2 separate regions of the Homo sapiens genome follow, and region 2 is linked to region 1. Evidence: fine-mapped expression QTL. A gene starts in region 1. The other region holds a variant in brackets. All regions are shown on one strand. Distances are from middle to middle.

The links. PIP is the estimated chance that this variant, and not a neighbour inherited with it, causes the effect.
Region 2: its variant is fine-mapped to the expression of EIF2S1 in tibial artery (GTEx, PIP 0.98).

The regions. Positions count from the first base shown.
Region 1 is chr14:67,355,413-67,366,761 of GRCh38, reverse strand. EIF2S1 (eukaryotic translation initiation factor 2 subunit alpha) reads right to left here and starts at 6,434. Exons shown (of 8, transcript NM_004094.5): 1 at 6,306-6,434; 2 at 1,754-1,995. The coding sequence starts at 1,994. ATP6V1D (ATPase H+ transporting V1 subunit D) reads left to right here and starts at 6,958. Exons shown (of 9, transcript NM_015994.4): 1 at 6,958-7,104. The coding sequence starts at 7,064. It also overlaps a transcript of GPHN not described here. RefSeq lists enhancers at 6,179-6,978, 6,999-7,218, 7,061-7,847.
Region 2 is chr14:67,306,596-67,317,944 of GRCh38, reverse strand. It overlaps PALS1 (protein associated with LIN7 1, MAGUK p55 family member), which reads right to left. Exons shown (of 15, transcript NM_022474.4): 9 at 5,235-5,418; 10 at 1,042-1,113; 11 at 466-537. It also overlaps a transcript of GPHN not described here. Among named protein-coding and RNA genes, the nearest start is that of ATP6V1D, 48 kb to the left of the region's middle. The variant T/C (reference allele first, on the strand shown) is at 5,756.

The DNA of each region.
Region 1 (11,349 bases):
TATTTTTCATACTTGTTCAGGGTTTATGGCATTTACGTTGAAAGGCTTGTCTAGGAGGACATAATTCTCTAGTATCAAAATGAATCCTCTCTACAGGCTCTTTTGCACTTTGCTTTTTCTCATCCTATCCTGGAGATCTTCCATATCAAAATATTCAGATCTCATTCTGCATAAAATTGCATTGCACGCATTTGTACTGATTTATTTAACCAGTCCCCATTTTGGTCATTTCCTGGTTTTAGTTAATGCCATACAAACAAATGCTATGGAAATATCTTTACATGTATCTACTGTACGTAAGCAAGTATGCCATTCCATATTTTTTCTGATTGCAACTAAAAACATATTTGATTCCTCCTTTTGTGTATATTTTATACAATAGAAAAAGAAGGCTGAGCACAGTGGCTCACACCTGTAATCCCAGTACTTTGTGAGGCCAAGGCAGGAGAATCGCTTGAGCCCAGTTCAAGACTAGCCTGGGCAACACAGCAAGACCCCATCTCTACAAAGAAAGTTAGCTGGGCAGGGTGGCACATGCCTGTAGTTCCAGCTACTTGGGAGGACTGCTTGAGGAACACTTGAACACAGGAGTTCAAGGCTGCAGCGACCTATGATCATACCACTACACTGCAGCCTGGGTGACAGAGCAAGACCCCAATTCTTAAAAAAAAAAAAAAAAAGTACAAGATTAGACACTACTTTAGGTACTACTAGGACAGTGATGTGAAGACTTACCTAAGTTTAACAAATAGTCTCAAAGTAGTTTAATAATTTTGGGCGGGGCTATAGCTAAGTCATAGCAAAACATTTAAAACAATCCATGTGCTAAGTAGCAGTCACTACCTAAGGCATAAGACATCCTCAAAATCTATGTATCATCTAAGGCTATAATAAAAAAAATTAAAATGTCAGTATGTATAAAATTAATCACTTGCAGAAGTGAGAAAGTATCAGTAAACCAGACGGCTGAGGAGATTCAGAAGGGTAAGTTGAATCAAGGTGACTGATATGAAGCCTTTCGGACATGATGGTAACTAATGACCTAAAACTAACACCTAACAAATTATAGTAAGATGGCTGAAACTAAAACCTACGTAATGGTATTGTACACCATGTTTAAAAAAAGAGTATTCACAAAGGTGATGATTTACATGGGGCCCAGAAAAGGCATCCAATAAGTAAAAAATGAATGCTCATCCAAAACTGTCTGAAAGATACCACGAGATCTGGTAGATGCAAACATTCTAATTACCAGCAAGATATACAATGTTGGATTTCAGGTGTGTATATACACGCATAGTATATTGCTTTTTCAAAGCTTATATAAAAGATCCCTAAAATCCATTTGCCCCATTTTCATGCTTACCCAGTGATCTCATTACTATTTTAGCTTTAAATCAAGAAAAAGGCATCCAACATATTCAGGCCTACCAATGTAAATGAACTAGTACTCTGACTTACCTGTCTCTAAGTTTGGTTACCATGAGTCAATTATCAAGATCCTGATAAACACTAGAAATAAAATTCAAGTTATCTGATCCATAAAATCCTAGGATGTACTAATTAAACTACTATTAAGAGATCTTGCTTAGATAGCTAATTGGCATCCTTTTCTAACAACTTTGTATGTAAAAGGTTTAAGTATAAAAGGAGCTTTTTTTTTTAAGCTGCAGCTTGCAATTTACAAAAAATGTATTTTTAAATAAACCATTTTAAATCTGAAATTTATATTACAGATATTTTTCTCACTTACCTTTTTCTTTGTCCACCCTAATGACAACCACACACTCATTCCTGCCAATTCGGATGAGTTTGTTGATAGAACGGATACGCCTTCTGGATAATTCACTAAGAAGAATCATGCCTTCAATGTTGTTGTATTCCAGCAAGCTGACATAAGCCCCCATTTCAGCAATGGATCTGACATTCACCATCACTACATCTTCCACCTCAGGAAATTTGTGTTGATAAAATCTACAACTTAGACCCGGCATTCTGCAATTTAAACAAAAGAATTAAGTAAGTATTCAGTTAAGGTGAAAATAAAAAAAAAATCAATTTCCACATCCTGCCACTGAAAGAAAAGATGAAGAAAAAAATAGTTATTAGTCTTAGTCTTCTCATCCTTTGAAACTTCTTAAGTGGTACCAGAAAACAGATAATGTTCAGGAACCAAGCTTTAATTTTTATTTTGCTCAACATTTTTGTAATGCTTGGGTGATTCTCTGCCTTTAGTTTCAGAGGAATCATAAAAAATAATGACCATCTATAAAGTACTCCAAGACCTAAGGATTAAAGGAATACCTCAAGAGTAAAATACTACTTTAAGGCATATCAAATGATGGGAAGCATCACTATTATAACTAATCAGAAAACTAAAGCTACTCTTTGCCGAAGTGAGCAAACATTGTATACGCTACCACTCACTATATAAAGGAAAAAATTTTCTACCTAAACCCTAACCAATATACCAAATGATACATTCTGTCATTTATTATAGCCAAAATTACAGTGTCACATGTCAAAACAACAAAAACTAAAAAAATTTTAATCACAAAATAAACTAAAATGCATCCTCCTCTCATAATTCTTTTTCCTTGAATTCACAATGTCTAGCTTCTCTTATCCCCAATACTCCCAAATATTCCTTTCTTTTATTGAATAGGTATACCTAATCTTGAGAATAGCTTTAATCTCCATTACTACAAAGTTCAAGTTTCTCTTAACCTCCAAGCATTAAAGATATTTACAATTATTCCCTTTGATCCACCCAACCTACTTTCAGCACTACTCCTTTTATGATCCACAAGCCTGAAATCATAGCCTGGGTAGAAGCATATTTAAAAAAGGAAGCTCTCAAACTAATCATGGCTGATGATTTTCATGTTTTTCTGTTAACCTTCACTGTTGTCACTGCTCAAAACGTAGGTAGTAACAGAACTTAAAGGCCTAAGAAAACCTTGTGAAAATTCATATAATAACTTATTAATTGGCACCTGCCTATATCTTCTCAGTGGCTTCCCACTGACTTATGTATCTTTCCACTACCTACAGAATCCTATATGATCTGGCCATTGCCTATCTCCTTGTGGTACAACTTTCTCCCTAGTTCTCCCCATTTTATAGATTAAAAAACTGAAGCACAGGTTAAGTTACTTGTTCTTTCACATACTGCTAACAGGTGATGAGTCAGGATTTGAATCCATGAAGTCTGGATCCAGAGTCTGTCCTCTTATCAGTAAGACTATATTCTCTCAAAACTATTCATAAATATATTATAATTAGAAACATTTTACTTAAAAAGCAACATTAATATATATTCAGTGCCAGAGTACATAACACCAATAAGTGCAAACTATTAGTACTCATCTGTTTGACAACAAAGAGCAGCATATTAATGACAGTAGCAGAGATGTATTTCTTTGTAGGGAATACAAAATCCCTACAAAATAGGGATTTAGCAAATAAAGAGAAGTAGACATTCAATGGCCTTACCCACCAAGAAACAGCTGACTGTTTGTTTCGTTTTTAAACAGGGCTTTTCGAGGGTGGGGGTGGGGAAACTGTTGTTGAATATGTGTATGTAAAGCTCTCAAATTTGAGAGCTAAAAAGTTTCAAATTGGGCATAAAAATAAACTATGTTACAGAAATGTATGGAACAGTTGCAAGACATTTGACCAGTGAAAACCACATTTACTTACCAAGCTTCTCCAAACAGTAAAGGTGATGCTTTTAGGGGAAGCAAGGCTTAATTTGATGGTTAAAAAACATGGGCAATCATGTAAGAGAATCCTGAAGGGATATGACTATGAATACTATTTCTTCAGGAGGCACAAGTCTCTTTGCAACATAAAGGGTAAGTAAAGGAATACTGTTGATGGTATGTTATTCATAGTAAAGATAGATAGTAGTTAAGTACAAAAAGAATCCATACCACAAAAACCTGCATATTGGTTGACAATTTTTGAACATATTGCCTAATGAAATGCTAATAACTTAAATTTTTTTTTTAACTTAAAAAAATCATTCCGCAATATCGAAGTCACACTAGGTGACTTCACCTCTTTATCTTTTTCACAGCATTCTTATTTTATTTGGTCCTCAAGAAGTGTCAAATCAGGCAATTAACATAGTAAACTCGGGGAACAACTCTAGCCTTGTGTTCCAGTCCTTGCTCTGCTACTTACTAGAAGTGGCTGCTTGGGAAAGATAACATCCTTTGAACTGTAGTTTCTCATCTGTGCCATGTACATCACAGGTTTACTGAGGGTATCACATGTATACGTAAAAACATTTTGAAAACCATTATGTGCTAGTCAAACATAAAATATTGAAAGAAAAAGAAGGTATTTCCATTTTGTAATATAATAATTTGTTAATTTTTTTTTCAGTAGCTACTATGTACTAAGCACTAATGATACAACAAGAAAGACTCTTACCAGGCCAGGCGCAGTGGCTCACACCTGTAATCCCAGCACTTTGGGAGGCCGAGGCGGGTGGATCACTTGAAACCAGGAGTTCGAGGCCAGCCTGGTCAACATGGTGAAACCCCATTTCTACTAAAAATACCAAAATTAGCTGGGTGTGGTGGCAGGCACCTGTAATCCCACTACTATAGTGGCTGAGGCAGGAGAATCCCTTGAACCCAGGGGCAGAGGCTACAGTGAGCTGAGATCGTGCCACTACACTCCAGCCTGGGCAACAGAGACTCTGTCTCAAAAAAAAAAAGAAAAAAGAAAAAAGAAAAAAAAAAAAGACTCTTACCTAAGTAATTAAGTATAGAGTGGGAAACAAACTAGCAAGCAAATAATTACAATACAAAGTACTATGAAAGGGCACAGTGAAGCAATGAACAGGAAAGGTGGAACAGAAATACTAAATTATAATACTTCCTTAAGAACAAATGCTTAATAAGTACTAGCGTAGGAGCTAAACTCAAGTAATCCGACATCAAATCCAGAATGTCTTTAACCCACAGAACCTCAATATCACAACATGCTATAATACTCTTATGTGTTCTGATGTAAAAAGTATCAGCCACCTTTCAAAATATATCAACCAAACTCCAGGCTAATTTCAAATACCCTGCATAGTCAGTTATTTTGCATGACAAATGGTAGGTAGGACTTCTTTCTCAAAACAGTGCATGGTCAAACTGCTATAATGGATATAGAAGTTCACATTCCTTTCCAAAATATATTATGTGATGGGGACAACTCTCGTGATAATTCTAATTTGGATCTAACACGTATTAGGAATGCTCTCTGAATGCTAGTTCTTGGTATAGGAGTGCTACATAAGTAAAGCTTTTATTTCATCATTATAGTTGAAAAAGAAAGTTATCACCGAATCTCTACAAACATTACTGTGCATGAGACAACTACATCTTTTGGCACCAGATGAACTAAGAATAGGTAGCAAAGTTCTGTACAAGTCACCCCCAAACTATTGACAGAGATTGTTCCTTGAATAACAACTCAATTGAGGGGAAATAAAGACTTCTCTGCTATACTTTTTCTCGAAGAAACCATGTTTTTTGCTTAATAAAAATTTAAAAAGCCTAAGTTTTGAGGATAAAGAGACCTCAGCATGACTGTGTATTTAACCCGAAAATATATCCTTATCTTAGGTTTTAGTTATGCTTAACTAACATAGTTAACCTAACATATGCTTAACACAGTTCTATTCTCATTGTCGCCAAAATACGACAAACTGATAGTAACAGTAATAAACTCAAGTCTCATTTAGTTTTGGTTCAAGGGGTGACTCATTCAATTATCAGATGAAAAACTACTCGGACCCCGCTCTTTCCAACACGGTGCCCGTCCCACAGGTTTCTCAGGTAAGAGGCCAGTTTGGTTTCCACTGAGACGCAGGGGAAATTTTTGGTAGAGCTGTTGGGGCGGAAGAAAAGATGGAATTCTCAAGCCTGGAAAAAGCAAAGTGCTCAGCGTCCTGAGCCGGGGTTAAGAGTTACGGTGTCACAGCGTTCTCCTGAGACCGCCCCATCGTCATGGCATTCTCACTTTCGGCATATTGTAGAGGCTGTACAATCCACTCGGCCCACTTTCCTTCACGAGATTCCTCTGCTCGAACAACGATGCCTCTGGAACACAGGATGACCTACACGGAGCCGGCGAGGAGGCCCACGACAGCGCGGGTGGTGGCGGTGCTGTCCAGCCACTTCCCGCGCAGGGACGGGAAAGGGAGGTATTAGCCCGGGGCCTACCCGCTCTCGAACACCCATGTCACTGGACACAAACCAAAGTGAGTTCCTGGAGAAACCGAGCTTGGGATTAGTCACCTGAGGTATGTGTGTGATTCCCGCACTGGAGCCCAGAGCCGACTTCTTCAATCACAGAGACCAGACTTGCTTCCCCCTCACCGGCCGCCGATCCTCCTCAGCGTGCGCTTCGCTCACTCCACCGCGCATGCGGAACCTCCTCGCATGCGCAAGCGCTGAACGAATAGAGGCCCCTCTTCATCATTAACCATAGAGTCTGGGTCCTCCGAGAACAAGGACGAATGTAGATCATGGAAGGACCTGAAAAGTACTGTTTCTCGCTATCTTAGCTTTAGCTAAGTAACCTTCAAGGCGCGAGAAAGACATAGGACTCCGATTCCTTGCCTCTGAAGAATGAATCCTCTTTCAAAGTTTCAGCTAACCATGAGATGGCGCTGTGACCAAAGACGAAAGGTGGAGAAAGACAAGGCGTGCACGCTTCGCTCCTAGTCTTTGGCCTGGCGCGTGCCGCGTATTGCGCAGCCGCAGGGAAGCTGGATGGGGAGGGGTTGGGAGGCGAACCGGAATTGAGGGGTGGTTCCGCGGTGCGCGCGCCTCGACATCCGGGCAACGCCTCTGTTCTGTCCTCCCCCTTCGTCGCCTGTGACAACCGGAAGCGGAAGTGAAAATGGGTGTCCCTGCTGCCTCTTAGCAACAAGAGGGGTCAAGTGACACAACCAGCTGACTCCCGTAGAGGAAGACACTGTGGAGGCCAGTTCTGGAGCTATTGCAGCCTCGGTTGCCCGGCCGGGGACCCGAGCCGAAAAGTTATCGTCAGAATGTCGGGCAAAGACCGAATTGAAATCTTTCCCTCGCGAATGTAAGTAAAGGAATGGGATAAGCCGCTTTCACAGGTTTAGGAACCCGGAGCGCGGTCCCTTCAGACCCTGGGCCACAGTGAGGGTCCTTGTTTCCTGGGAGGATCCTGAGCTTTTCCCAGGTTCTTTTCTTGAGTCTAGGGCGAGGCTTCCTGACGGCCTCTTCGCGCATTCCTCCTGAGTGAATCAGGCTGGACGAAGCGATCCCAGCCGGTAGGAAAAGGCGCCCGGCCGGCGGGCTTTTGTGGAGGTCTGCTGTCTTTATTCATTAATGGATTCATCCATTCCACATACCCTTATTGAGCCGGGCACTGGATTTATATAACTGAACCGTCGCCACCTCTGCCCTACAGAGCTCACAGTTTACGTAGCCAGACATTCGTCTGGAAAGGCCAAGGAGGTTTTAATAAATGCTCTGAGAAGGGAAGTTTACTGAGGATATAGAAGAGGTCCCTAAGCCAAAGTGGGGATGGAATCGAATCGCCCTAGCATAGCCCTCGGATTCGATCTTGGATCCCCTTACTCATTTTCCAAGATCCCGCCAAATGTCACCTGCTGTGAGAGGATATCCCTGTGTTTCTGAGGCACTGCTTTTGCTCTCTCACCGCTGCACCTTGTTCAGACCTGTGTTAATACCGGTCATCACGCTGTAAAGTAGATATTTGTTTATGTGTCTTTCTCTCCCACTAGACTGTGGGCTCTCTCCAGGATGAAAGAGTGTCTTAATCCATAGAAGGTCCACAAAAAAATATTTCTTGAAAGAACTCATGCTTGGGAATACGCTCAGTTGTGGGCTGCCTTTCTTTTGGGGCCTGAATTCTTTGTCAGGAAAATGGCATATCACTGTAGGTGTTTGGCTAGTTTGTAAGGAAAATTTTGACGTTTTCTCAAATGTGCCTAACAACTTGCTCCCTTTCTCCTCCTCATCCTGTTTATTTTTATTTAGTTTGTTGTTTGTTTGTTTTAATAAGAGACAGGGTCTCCCAGGCTGGGGTGCAGTGGTATGATCAGAGCTCACAGCAGCCTCAAACCCCTGGGCTCAAGTGATCCTCCGGCCTCAGCCTCCCTGGCGGCTGAGATTATAGATGGGAGCCACCGCGCCTGGCTTTCCCTTTTTCTTTTCAGTGAGGAAGCAGAAAATCAGTTTTGACCCTGACATTTAGACCCTTTTATTGTGGTCCTATCTCTGTGGGGGTGTTTTGTTGTTTTTCCTCATTCTGTCCTTTGAGAGAATCTGAGGATGCTTAAAATAAAAGTTATATTCAAACCTGAAGCCCAGATTTCTTTCTGCCCGGTGACTAAATAGCTCTTAATGAAATGAAGTTTTTAAATTTTTTACCTTCACCTGTTGACTTTCTAATAGCTGTTTGCACTAAGTAGGCAGCAAGCTAGTTGTGGGGAAATAAAGATGAGGACTATCCCGAGGTAGTGACAACTGCAGAACTCCTAGGACGTGATGACTCAGTCAAAACTTCTGCACTGAAAGACATCGACACTAGTTTATCTTCTAGCAATGTAAGGCCTGCCCCTAGGGTGACCCCAGGCCGCCCCCCGCCGCCCCCGCCATTAAAATGCCTGCCTGAAAAAGCTCAAAGCTAGGGGGAGAATTTACTGTTTGTTCTAGTCAACACCTAATTGATAGACCCCTCTCGTTCCCTTTTTAGAGCATTTACGAAACAGGCTTACAATTGTTAATATGTATCTCTTCCAACTCTGAAGTGTCCCTTCAAGTATCTTTGAGAGCCATTTCTTTGAAACGTAATCATCAGGAGGGATAGGGGCTTTGTCTCCCAGTCTGTGTGAGAGGATAGAATAGTAACTTACTAATTGCCAGGTAGTATGGCGTTTACACTGACCAACACTTTAAGGTTTCTCTTCTCTGACTCTTCTTGCGGCTGGCTCCCTGCCACTCCCTTACTCTCTTTTTTAAAATGGCCAGTCACCTCTGCACAAATGAGAATTGAGCTCAGCCCTTTCCCCTACTATCAGTGGTTTACTGAATAAAATCTGTTTTCACTACTTTAACGAATGTCTGGCTGGGTTTATCTTTGACAGCAGTCAGAATAACTTTTTTGTTTTTACTTTGAAACTTTTACTTTGAGACTAAGAGGCAAAAATAGACATCTTTGGGCTTAGGTAAGAAAATGATAGGCTCATGAAGGTGAAACTACTATTTGAAAGCTCTCAGCTTGCTGATTGAGAGGAAAATCAGGTGCAGGAAATAATCTCTTCTCTAAATATTTTCCCCATGGCTGGCAGCAGGCTTTTTGTCATGTAGTCAGATGTCTTTGATTCAGCTGGAAGAAAAGTCATCATCCTAGCTAAAGGTCAAACTTTTTGAGTAGGACTGAGCAGCTCTGAAACATGTAAAGGAGCAAGTTTTAAAAGCCATAGGCTAGAAAATATACTGGCAGCTTGTTTCACAGACATTTCCATTCAACAGTATTATTCTGTGATGTTACTTTCACCCACTTTCGTACCAGAGAAAGCAAAAACAATTGTAGAGTGGAAGTAAAAGACGCATGAAAAATTTGGAGTCAACAGAAGTCCACTAAATCCAGGTTCTGCTACATATTAGCTGTAAGTGTGCACGCTGCTCTTAGAGTTTCAGGAATTAAAATTGCCCATTTCACAAAGATGCCATTCCCTAGGAGGAAAATAAAATTAACATGGTAAATTCAATTTTATCAACCAGTTTACCTTTTACTATAAACTGGCTGGAATATGCAGTACTACAATTTGACTTAAATTTGATCCAGCTCTTTGAGCCCAAGTTCTAGTATTTACTATCAACAATACATTATGTTAAATGCACACATTGAGATGGATAGCTCCTTCTCAGGCTGGAAACTAAACGACCTTCACTTGATAAGACCTCTTGTGAGACCAGTCAGTGCAGAGTCAGCCAGTGATAATTGTTCTCTTTAAGGGGAGGCACATGTTTGGGGTACAGTGAACGTAGGTTGGAGCCTTAGTTTGAGCATTGGGAAAGTCAGTGGAATCAAAAGTCTGGTTCAAGTCCCTGCCCTGCCTTTTCTTCACTGAGTAACTTTGAGAAAGTTGTTTTACTTTTCTAAGCCTCATTTTTCTAATCTTTAAGTTAATGTCTAAAGTCCCTTTCAGCTATAGAATTGTCTTAGTGATCTTAGCCCTATGGTAAAAGATTCCAGTATAATTTAAGAATTTGGCCAAATGGTGTTTGTTTGTTTTTGTTTTTTTTTTTTTGTTTTTGTTTTTTTGAGGCAGGTTTTCCCTCTGTTGCCCAGGCTGGAGTGCAGTGACCCGATCTTGGCTCACTGCAACCTCTGCCTGCCAGGTTCAAGTGATTTTTGTGCCTCAGACTCCTGAGTAGCTGGGACCACAGGGATGCAGCACCATACCCAGCTAATTTTTGTATTTTTTGGTAGAGATGGGGTTTCACTATGTTGGCCAGGGTGGTCTCGAACTCCTGACCTCAAGTTATCCACCTGCCTCGGCCTCCCAAAGTGTTGGTATTACAGGTGTGAGCCACTGCACCTGGCCAAAAAAGTTTATTAGTACATGCGATTTTAAAACACCAGTCATATGAAATTATATCCCCTTAAATCACTGTGTCTAGGTTATACTGTGTCTAGGTTATACAACCTTATTGTTGAATTTTATTACCCAAACACTTGTTTTTTTGAGACCGAGTCTTGCTCTGTTGTCCAGGCTGCAGTGCAGTGGCATGATCACAGCTCACTGCCTCAACCTCCTGGGCTCAATCAGTCCTCTCACCTTAGCCTTCTTTGTATATGGGATTACCGGTGTGCCCTACCATGCCCAGGTAATTTTGATATTTTTTTTTTTTTGTAGAGACAGGGTTTCACCTTGTTTCCCAGGCTGGTCTTGAACTCAAGCAATCTACCCACCTTAGCCTCCCAAAGTGCTGATTATAGACATAAGCCACTGTACCACTTACCTTATTTAGAGCATTCTTCCTAAGGTCCTCCAGGTACTTTTCATTAGCTCTTTTTCCTGCCTGAAATACTCTTTCCCCGGAACTTATAACTGGCTCCTTTGGCTGTTCTAGTCTCTTAAGAGAGGCTGTTCCTGATCACCCAATCTAAAGTGAACACCATGTTTGCTTCTGTCATAATTCCTTATTTTAATTTTATTGTAGCATGTACTACTGCATGGTATGACATTTTATTTCTAGTCTTTTTTTTTTTTTTTTTTTTTTTTTTTTTTTGAGACAGGGTCTTACTTCTACATCCTCGAACTGGGCT
Region 2 (11,349 bases), 49 kb after region 1:
TATCAGAGCTTTTGATTTTAAGAGAAGCTACAACTTTCGAGCTTTTTAATCTTAGCAATCAATCAAAATAAAACTAAAATTCTCTTGTGTGTCTGACTTAGCCAGCAGGTAGTGGGTTCTCAGGAATGAGTTGCTTCTGTGACATGAGCTATTGTAGAGGACATAGTTTTTACTTCAAGTATGTTCTGTAAGAATTTGTTAGAAGTATAATTTTTGCAAAGAGTTTAAGTAGAAAAAAACTACAGGAAACTGTCAATTTAATACTACATATGCTAAATAGTACTTGAATTTTTGTATCAGTTTTCCCCAGAATTCAAAACACTGCCTTACTCACAGGATTCCAAAAGAAAATACTTTCTACTAAATGATTTTCTCAAGCACATATTTAACATTAAGGTGCAAAACAGGACTAGGTTTAGACTCCTTTCAGATATAATTCCACCTATCCCTGAGAGTAGAACTTACCATCATTTTTATTGGCATTATATAAAACCTTTTTCCTCTTCTTTTTATTCTTCTTTGCACACCACAGTTTTCCTGTTGAGCAATCATAAACATAACTATAAATGTGTTCCCGTGAACAAAACCACATAACTCAAATTGAAGAACTCTATTTATTCATTCATTTATTCTTTAAATTTTTTTGCAGAAACGAGATCTCCATATGTTGGCCACGCTTGTCTTGAACTCCTGGCCTCAAGTGATCCTCCCGCCTCAGTCTCCCAAAGTGCTGGGATTACAGGTGCAAACCACCACACCCAGCTTGTTTTTAATTTACTTTTATAAATACTTATTACACTGTTTGTATAAAGACTATTTTTCAGGAAAGCATTTACAATTTTCAATTAACTACACAGTATAGACAGATAATCTTTAATACTTAAATCTTATCCTTTCTTTACAGTTCTGAGATAATCAGTTTTGCCTCTTGTATCACTCTTTCCCTGAGTACTTCTTCACGGTTCTAATATGCAGATTCACACATGGCTCCAGATGAAGACCCAAGAAACCATTTACTTATGTCAAATACAAGTGTCTAACCTGATTTTTCTGGCTCCTTATCTTCTTCTATGGTTTGTTTCATGGCTTCCCTTTGCTGCTGAAAGCTTTTCCCTTAATAGCAGAAAGAAAAAGAAGGGTAAAATATTTAAGATAAAAGGATAAGAATTTTTTTTTTAATCAAGAAGGGAAAACACTAGACATATCTCTTCACTTATATTCCCTTCCAAATCCTTTTGCCAACACAGGAGTAATGTCAGCTATGATGTGTAAGCCTCCAAATTTTTAAAATATTAACTCTGCTCAATCAATCCCATATGTATTATTAGAATACATATCATCTACTAAAATATTTAAAAATTTAATAGTTCAACTTTTTAAAAGGTTTCATTGAGCATTTACTTTGTGGAAAAGTACTATCCTGGATCTTACAATGGTTCTAGGTCCTTTAGAATTATCTCAAATTAAGGATATCAATTCTAGGAATTAACTTTTCCAAAACAACATGTGCGCATTCATCACATATTCAATTCCATATTCAATTCCAAGAAACCATTCAGTATATTCCCTTGCATGCATTATTCTCAATTCCTCTTCTTTTGTGTATGTATATGTGTTAGCCATTTTTTATTTCCACCCTTAAGTTACCAATTATATAAATGGAAAACGTGCTTTTCCTTACAAAATTAATATTTTAATATAGGAGGCTTTCAAGGTTCCTGACCTTGAAAGAGGTTTTCTTTTCCGACTTCTACTTTAAATCAAATATGTCTTTTCCTATAGGATACAAGTGGCTTCACTTAGAAGATTCTGAATTACGTTGAGGTTCCACTTTTTTATTTTATTTTTAAATCTACTTTTTTTCAGTGTAAAGCCAGAGATTCTTAAAAATCAATAAGCAAATTCTACATAGGTGGGGATAATCTGTAGAACTTAGTGCATTTCGTAAGTGTACTAACAAAAAGATTAATACTGACTTCCATACACATAAGAAGCATTAAAGGAAGCCTGGTTATCTTTTGAGACGAAGTCTCGCTCTGTCACCCAGGCTGGAGTGCAGTGGCGCAATCTTGGCTCACCGCAACCTCCGCCTTCCAGGTTCAAGGGATTCGCATGCCTCAGCCTCCCGAGCAGCTGGGATTACAGGGGCCCGCCACCATGCCCAGCTAATGGTTGTATTTTTAGTAGAGGCTCGGTTTCACCATGTTGGCCAGGCTGGTCTTAAACTCCTAATCTCAGGTGATCCTCCTGCTTGGCCTCCCAAAGTGCCAGGATTAGGGGCATGAGCCACTGTGCACGGCCAAGACTGTATTCTTAGTACAAGTAACTATTACTAGAAGGAAAATTTTAAGAGTATTAAAATTTAAAGGGGTCGGGTGCAGTGGCTTATGCCTGTAATCCCAACACTTTGAGAGGCCAAGGTGGGCAGATCACGAGGTCAGGAGATCAAGACCATCCTGGCTAACACGGTGAAACCCCATCTCTACTAAAAATACAAAACATCAGCTGGGCGTGGTGGTGGGCACCTGTAGTCCCAGCTGCTCAGCAGACTGAGAGAGAAGAAGGGCATGAGCCCGGGAGGCGGAGCTTGCAGTGAGCTGAGATCATGCCACTGCACTCCAGCCTGGGAGACAGAGCGAGATTTTGTCTCAAAAAAAAAAAAAAAAAAAAAAAAAATTAAAAATAAGTAACCGATTTTTAAAAATCAAGAACAAAGTAATTTTAATCATTTACATATTAAAAATGTAAAACATTACAATGATGTACTTCTGTGGCACTTTTTGTAGTATGAACTATAGGCTATTCTGAAATAGAGGCAGAAATTAATGAGAGATGGAAATGATTTTCTTTCTTTTTCTGAGACTGCTCTGTTACACTGGTGTGATCAAAGCTCACTGCAGCCTCAACCTTCCAGCCTCATGCAATCCTTCCACCTCAGCCTCCTGAATAGCTGGGACTACAGGTACGCACCACCATGCCCAGCTAATTTTTAAATTTTTTGTAGAGACAAAGTCTCATTATGTCAGCTATGCCACTATGTGGCCCAGGCTAGTCTCAAACTCCTGGGCTCAAGCAATCCTCCCACCTCAGCCTCCCAAAGTGCTGGGATTACAGGTGTGAGCCACCAGGGCCAGCCTCATAATGACCTCTTAAAAAAATCTGTCTAATTCTGATGGAAAGCCATCGTCAAACTCTAAGGCAGATCTTTAGTCTTATAAAAAGACTTAGAAATGTCATCATTGGAATCTATATACTTTCAGAAAATCAATCTATCAACAAACACTAGTTCTAAACATTTATGGGCTAAAGTTCGGCATGGTAGGAAGACACCATACTGATATTTGGCACAAGCCTGAGGCAGAACCACAATGGCTACCCAACACTCCAAGATTCTAGAGAAATGTCCTGTAACTGTTACTCTGAAGAATCACGGGTTTTAGCATCATACTCTAAAATAAATGTAAGAAGTCCATTCCTCCTTCCTTAAAATATGACTGATATAGACAAAATCTGTTTCTAGCCTCTGAGTTTTAAAGTGAGAAATTTGAAGCTTTCTGTGACCTTATACTCAAAAAGAATAAATGTAAATATTATGTTGAAATCTCTTGTACCCAGAAAAGTCTCTTTGGCTTAGTTACAGAGATAAAAGAGATTCCTTATAACTTATTCTAAAATCTTTGGACAACTTCCTCTGTTCCTACTATGTATCTCATAGTCAATATTTCTCAGTCTTTTTTTTCATGCCCTCCTTTTCTTCTTTTCCCCTAAACTATTGCTTGTTGTCAAATCCAGTGTAAGGCTAAGTCTATAGCCAAATCTGTTATGCTTAAAATCTTCTGGTGTGAGTAGGAGGGATGATCGCTAAAAAAGGTTGTAGATAAAAGATAAGGCCAGAAAAACATTACAGCAAAGCATTGAAAGGTCTAATTCAGAAACAGCAGTTCTGGCAGAACTATTTTTTTTTTTTTTAATTTTTGTTTGTTTTCTGAGAACTTTTAAAATCATCTTTTATTCATTAATTTAACATATATTATCTGGATTTAAAACAAATAAGACTTGGCCTCTGACATCAAGAAGTTTATAAACTGAGCATATACAGTAGAAAGAATTATAACAGAGACAATATCATGAAAATATTATAAAGTAGGGGACACAGAAGAAAAAAATATACATAAGTGTTAATGGATATGCTTTCAAGTAAAGTATGTAAGCGAAGTTTATCTCAGCACCAGGCAAAGTGCTTTACATGGTGCAGACATAACAGCATTTATTAACAAATAAATGGATGAATTATTATCCCTTTACTCTATATCCCTATTTTTATCATCCTGTATGTATTCCTTTGCCTTCTCCGATAGCTTATTAAACTTCCCTTAGTTCTGCTCTCCTTTCTTTATTCTACTGCCATCCTGGGAACTGTAAGAGCCATTTGTAGAAAATAATTATATCTACATACAGTCATGCACTGCATAACAACATTTCAGTCAACAACCAACCATATATATGATGGTGGTTGGAGGAATAGGCTATACCACATAGCCTAGCTGTACAGCAGGCTATATCATCTAGGTTTGTGTAAATACACTCAGTGATGTTTGCACAACAATGAAATCACCTAATGGCACATTTCTCAGAACTTATCCCTGTCGTTAAGTGATGCATGACTGTACTTTGTTCTATTTTGTATCATCTTAACTCTCAGAAACATGTCCCCTTAATAATCTTAATCTATAATGTAAGCTAAAGTTTTAGTTTAGTCTAAGTTAGGGATAGTTTCATCAATAAAAAATTTGGAGCATCCTGTTTCTGCCCTAAGATCACGTTTGGTACAATAAATTCTATGATGTTACTTTTCCTGACTCCTTATAAAGTTATGCATCTTTCCTTCTCAAAAATCATGTTGATGCTCCAATTAATGTCATAGTATATAGTATATAGTATAATACAAGTTGTATTGCCTCGATAATACGGTCATCTTAATATGTATACAGGAAATGTACTACAATATGGGATTGGCTGAAGTTATACATAATTCCATTCTAAAGGCCAAAGAATTGGCCACATTCTATTTAATATACTTACGCTGCAGGTACAACATAAAAACCCAACTACACGAAAAAGTAACTGGAATACTTTATTAAATAGAGGCATGAAAGAGTGAGTTTTTCTTTGTGAAGGCTTGCATTTTCAATGTTCTTTTAATATTATGTACTTTCTACCATATTGTGTCTTACCTGGAACAAGCCCGGCTAGAGGTTGATTATCTTCGTCCCCTTCCCTGTAGGCCTGCCACCAGTTTGGATCTTCTTGACTGATCACATGAAGTATATCACCTTTTTGAAAAGACAGACCTAACTCTCGACATGGAACATAAGGGTCATCTGAGGGGTCATAGTCAAAATGAGCTTTTACATGGATCTAAAAGATAAAAAGGGCAAAAACAACAATAAATGGCAATATAAAATGTTTCATATGAATACAATTTAAATGCTACAAATTTTTTATTATTTTTTAATTTTAAAAAAATTTAATAGAGACAGCATCTCAGTATGTTGTCCAGGATAATCTCAAATTTCTAGCCTCAAGCGATCCTTCTCCCTCAGCCTCCCAAAGTGGTGGGATTATAGGTGTGAGCCACTGCACTTGGCCACAATTTTTCATCAGTGCAAAGAAATTGTAGTTGGAAGAAGGGTGTTAAGTAACAGTGTTTTTGGGCAATATTTTTTCAGGCTGATCTGTTATCTTCTCTGTTGAC[T/C]TGCAGATATGTACAAGGATATCCACAACACTGTTCGCAGCTACAAGCTGAGGTACAAGGTGCCTCAAAAGCTTGAGAGAAGCAGAAATAGAATAGAATCCTGACCTGTGAAAACAATGACTCTGCAATAAGGTATGCAATTTCCAAACCACAGCTACTAGAAAAGGTACACTTTACCTTACCACATCTCTTCATCTAAGCAGGTAAATATGAGCTTCCCTGGGGCTGTCATTGTCTCTTGACCCCACTGTCAGTCCAACTATGCCTTAAACTCTCTTGGCGTTTCTTTTAAAGGATATGTTCATGAAACAAGCACACTATCAACGACTAAAATTAACTAAATCAAGTTTATAATCAATTCTTATTTGTATGCTATGTAGGCTTTGACATATTATTAACGGTACAAGTTATAATTTTTGCTAATAATGTGTTTTTGGAAATCAGAATAAATCAAAGAATTGTGCTATTCTACTTAGCATTAAGGGCAGGTAGTAACTCTCATGAACTTTATAAGCTATTCTGTATGCCATTTCTTCCAATATGCCTCTGTAAGATATGACAGACTATTCTTACTTCTAAGAAGTTATAAAGGAATTAAAATTCTCTTTAATTTCCCCATGTCTAATTTTTACCTAACCTGGGCAAGTTGCATGTGACACTTCCAAAATCTATAAGAAATCTACTTCATCTAATGAGATCTCACACAAATTTGTAATGAGCATTTCTGCCCACATATTTGCAGTGAGCATTTCTGTCACACATAGGTTAAATTCCAAGTTCAGGCTCAACGAACCAAGCAAAAGACAAACAGTCTAAGAATTCAAGGTCCATTTCTATCCAAATATTATTTGGCTTTGGCTTTTTTTTTTTTTTTTTTTTGAGACGGAGTCTCGCTCTGTTGCCCAGGCTGGAGTTCAGTGGCACAATCTTGGCTCACTGCAAACTCCATCTCCCGGGTTCAAGTGATTCTCCTGTCTGAGCCTCCCGAGTAGCTGGGATTACAGGCACTCACCACAACGCCCAGCTAATTTTTGTATGTTTAGTAGAAACAGGATTTCGCCAGTTGGCCACACTGGTCTTGAACTCCTGACCTCAGGTGATCCACCTGCCTTGGCCTCCCAAAGTGCTGGGATTACAGACACGAGCCACCACGCCTGGCCTTAGCTTTAAGTGTTTTACTCTCACCATAATTGAGGTTATATGTAATAAAAGTAATACCAGTCTACCCCAAAAGGGGCACTTTTTAAGCGCTCTTTAAGCACTTGAGACACTGACTAAAATGAGTACTGTCGATGACAGACTATATGAAATTGGAAAAAATGCTAAGTGACAAAGATAGACATAGATAGATAGATAGACAGATAAATGGCTTTTTAAAAAATTTTTGGCTTGTCATTAAAGAATATTTTTTAATTTCAAAGAATATTTTATTAACTTCTATAAATAGGAAATAAAGCTGAGTCCTAATATACAAACTGAAACTAAGGTTAAAAAATGATCTGGTTAAAAATACAAAGATATAAAAGTTAAACAGCTACCAGCAAAACTTAAATGTTATTATGCCTTTTGGGAGTAACTTTTGATACACAAAAAATACACATTATCATAAGTGTATAGCATAGTGAATTTTCACTAACTAAACAGACCTGTATAACTAGCATCCAAATCAACAACCATCATATCACCAACACCTCAGAGGCCCCACCTGGTCTCTTTCCATCACTACCCATCCCATCCCCTCCAAGGATAAACATCATCCTGATTTCTAGAAACACTGATTATTTTCCCCTGTATATTAATTCATATACATGGAATAGCATAGTATATAATCTTGTACCAAATATAGTTAAGATAACACACCAAATTTGAAAGTGTTGTGGCTCATCCTAAATGCAAAGTGCCCTAAAGAACCTCATTCTAGATGTGAAAAAACAGTTTTTATTAAAATCTTGAAATCTTTCTCAGTCAGCACTAAAAATGAATTTTAGAAAGTTGTGTGGGATAGCAGTGAATCAAAACACAGTTAAGAGATTGAGCAAAAAGATTATACAAATTTATAATCTTGGCATGAGGAAAAATCTCCTATGTAGTTTTATCTAGAAATATGTTTTCTTTAAAAAAAAAAAAGTGCTTGAGCACCATCCTATCAATAATACTTCTAGAATCTGTTTGTTACTTTTTTGCCAAAAAAAAAAAACCTTGAGAATCTAAAAATGGAATTTTTGGCATCACTTGTAGTGGAGAGATCAATTTTACCAGATTTTTCAAAGATCAAATCAAAGTACTTGTCAATCTTGATTGACAATTTTATCAAATCACTTTCTGAAAGCCTACCCAGTATGTTGTTTTTCAAAGTGTTTTTGCTCAGATCACCTGCCTAGGATGTTTATTAAAATGATGAATTCTCATGCCGCACCTCAGACTCTCAGACTCTGAATTTTAATCAGGTTCCTTGGGTAATTATTAGGTACAGCAATCTTAGGGAACTACTACCCTGAGAGAAATTAAGACCCGTGAGGAGGGAATATCTACATTTATGACCATTGCCATAGGCCAACAAAATCACCCAGAGATGCTTTTCCATGTACTCTTGCCTATGCAGTTCTCATCCCTTAACTATTCTAATTTAACTGGCTTGGAACAGGGCCCCTCTTTGTGTAGGCTGGGAAGAGAACATGCTTTACTTATGTGACAAGTTTCTCTAGTCCCATCTAAAATATACCCTAAAATTAAGAGAAAAAGCTCTTACTTTCCTAAAATTAAGAGGAAAAGGCTCTTATTAATTTTTCCTAAGGAAAATTTATTTCACATCTGAAAAATTAATGATTTGAATGAGTTAAAGTCTGGGTATTGCCTTAACAGATACTATATGACTTTTATCCATATATTCCACTGATTAATTCTTACCAGTTCTAGAAGTTATCTCCACCAATCTTTCCTGCTAGTGTCAAAATTATTTTGTTTCTCATACAACAAAAAAAGCCCCTTTAAAATGAAGGAGATAAGCTGACCCTCATAGGAAAGGTCCAGGGCCTCATAATGCTATAATAATATCAGAACAGTATATCTGATCAAAACAGTATTTGGCTTCTGAACAAAACAAAATCTTCTGTTTACATTTCAAATTGTAGAACTGTTTGGACGCAATTATCTTCCAGCCCAACATTTTCTTTTTCCTTTTTTTAATATCTATAAGCTGTTCACATTTGAAGTCGTAATGATGAAATGGGGATAGGGTACAGGGATAATGATTCATCAGTTTATTTACATGTTTTTTAGGGATCCAATGTTCCAAAATATTGTTTTTCAACCAATCAAGAAGGCTATTAGAATTACTTATTAATAAAACTTGTCCTATATTGTAATTTGGGATAGTAAGTAGAGTAGTACATATATATACAATATGGGAGGGGACATGTTCAATGTTTTTTAATTGATAAAGGTATAAAACAAAATTAGCTGGTGGCACAGTAGATGGTACTTGTACACGGTACAGGGTAGCTGTAATCCCAGCTACTTGGGAGGCTGAGGCGGGAGAATCACTTGAACCCAGGAGGCGGAGGTTGCAGTGAGCCAAGATGGCACCATTGCACTCCAGCCTGGACAACAGAGTGAAACTCTGTCTCCAAAAAAAAAAAAAAAAGAAAAAGAAAAAAATATTTGGAGAGTGCTGATCTAAAACTCAGGATCTATATTCCACTTGCTCAATGGACACTCCTTTGGAAAAGTATAAATTTGCCACAACCACCTGGACAGTGTACTTGGGAGACAACTTTGGGATTAGCTTAATGGAAAGGTTAGTACTCATGAAGGTAAGGCTATCACATTGGTGACGCCCTCAAAATCAAAGAGAAAAAAAAGAAAAAAAAAAAAAAGGAAGTTTGGTTTTTCCCTTTTCTATTGTCTAAGTATTAGGTTGGCTTTTATACTTTTTACACTGACTTTTTTTTTTTTTAAACTGTTAAGTTCAGGGATCCAACTGCAGGTTTGTTACATAGGTAAACTTGTGTGTTGGGGGTTTGTTGTACAGATTATTTCATCACCCAGGTATTAAGCCTAGTACCCATTAGTTACTTTTCCTGATCCTCTCCCTCCCCCTGCCCTCTACCCTCTGAAAGACCCTAGTGTGTGTTGTTCCCCTTTATGTGTCCACGTGTTCTCATCATTTAGCTCCCACATGTAAGAGAACATGTGGTTTTTGGTTTTCTGTTCCTGTGTTAGTTTGCTAAGGACAATGGCCTCCAACTCCATCCATGTCCCTGCAAAGGATATGATCTCATTTTTTTATGGCTGCATTCGTATTCCATGGTGTATATATACCACATTTTCTTTATCGAATCTATCATCGATGGGCATTTAGGTTGATTCCACATCTCTGCTACCAAAATATTTTTCTTTGTAATTTTTATTTCTGTATCTCTTACTATCGCAGATTTATCTTTAACTCTTAAAGTTCATTGTAGAAGAGAAAATAGTGAAAGTGAGTCAAGGAAAGCCTTTATAGCACCAAGCAAGTTTTTAAGTATCTCCACACAACACTAGAATTTCTCCTTTCCCCACATCCACCAAGAAATAAATGTCTTTATTAATACATTTTTATACCTATAATGGGAAAGCAATGTATTTGATAGCAGTGGTTCTCAACTTTTCTTTACAACACAGTTATCTCTGTAGTGCCTGGCACAGAGTACATAATCATAATAATAGCTTATATGTATTAAACAATCAATAATCTGTTAATTTTCTGGTACATATTCTGTAACTAATAAGCGATGTGATCCTTCTTCATTTAAATACACTCCTTGTTAGATTATGGCATTAGACTAAATGAAAAAGTCCCATTCAGATAAAAGTCTATTATGCCCTCCCTACATATTATTATAGTATAGAATAATCTAAAGTTTTACAAACTAGTCTGGGAAATCCAATCCTTCCTTTTTTTAAAAAGGCCGAGAGAAGGAAACTGTACGTTTGAATAATGTATGCATTTCCTAGATCAAATGTGCCAGTTACTCAGGAAGTGAAATACAGAGGTGCCAAGACTCTTGCCCTCTGCTACTGAAAGAGCAGCCACTGATTGCTATGTGTGATACAAAAGAAATTTAAGAACTCAAGAGAGCACTTCTGACACAGCTTATTATTGCCATACATGACATCATAATTCAACAAGTCATTATATAGGGGTTTCAGATAACACTTATTTTGTATATCTGTCTTAAACACATTTCTAACATCACAAAACATAAATCAGGAAGATATCTGCTGCTGCTGCTATCAACAGATGCTGACCTGTACCATAATGATACTCAATAAATTGGTTCTAATTTCTTTAGATTATTAATTCCATAGATAATTATTCTGCATATGTCAACCAAGATTATGATTTCCTATTACTGTTTCCTTTCTGGACAGCCTCAATGAGCTTTAATAATAGCAGTTCATTTTAAGCCAGTTAGGTCTGACAAAACTTGGCAAGATATATTGCAATTGAGAGTTATTCATAATAAAAAGAGAAAAGAAGGGGCTGGGCATGGTGGCTCATGCCTGTAATCCCAGCACTTGGGAGGCCAAGGTGGGCGGATCATCAGAGGTCA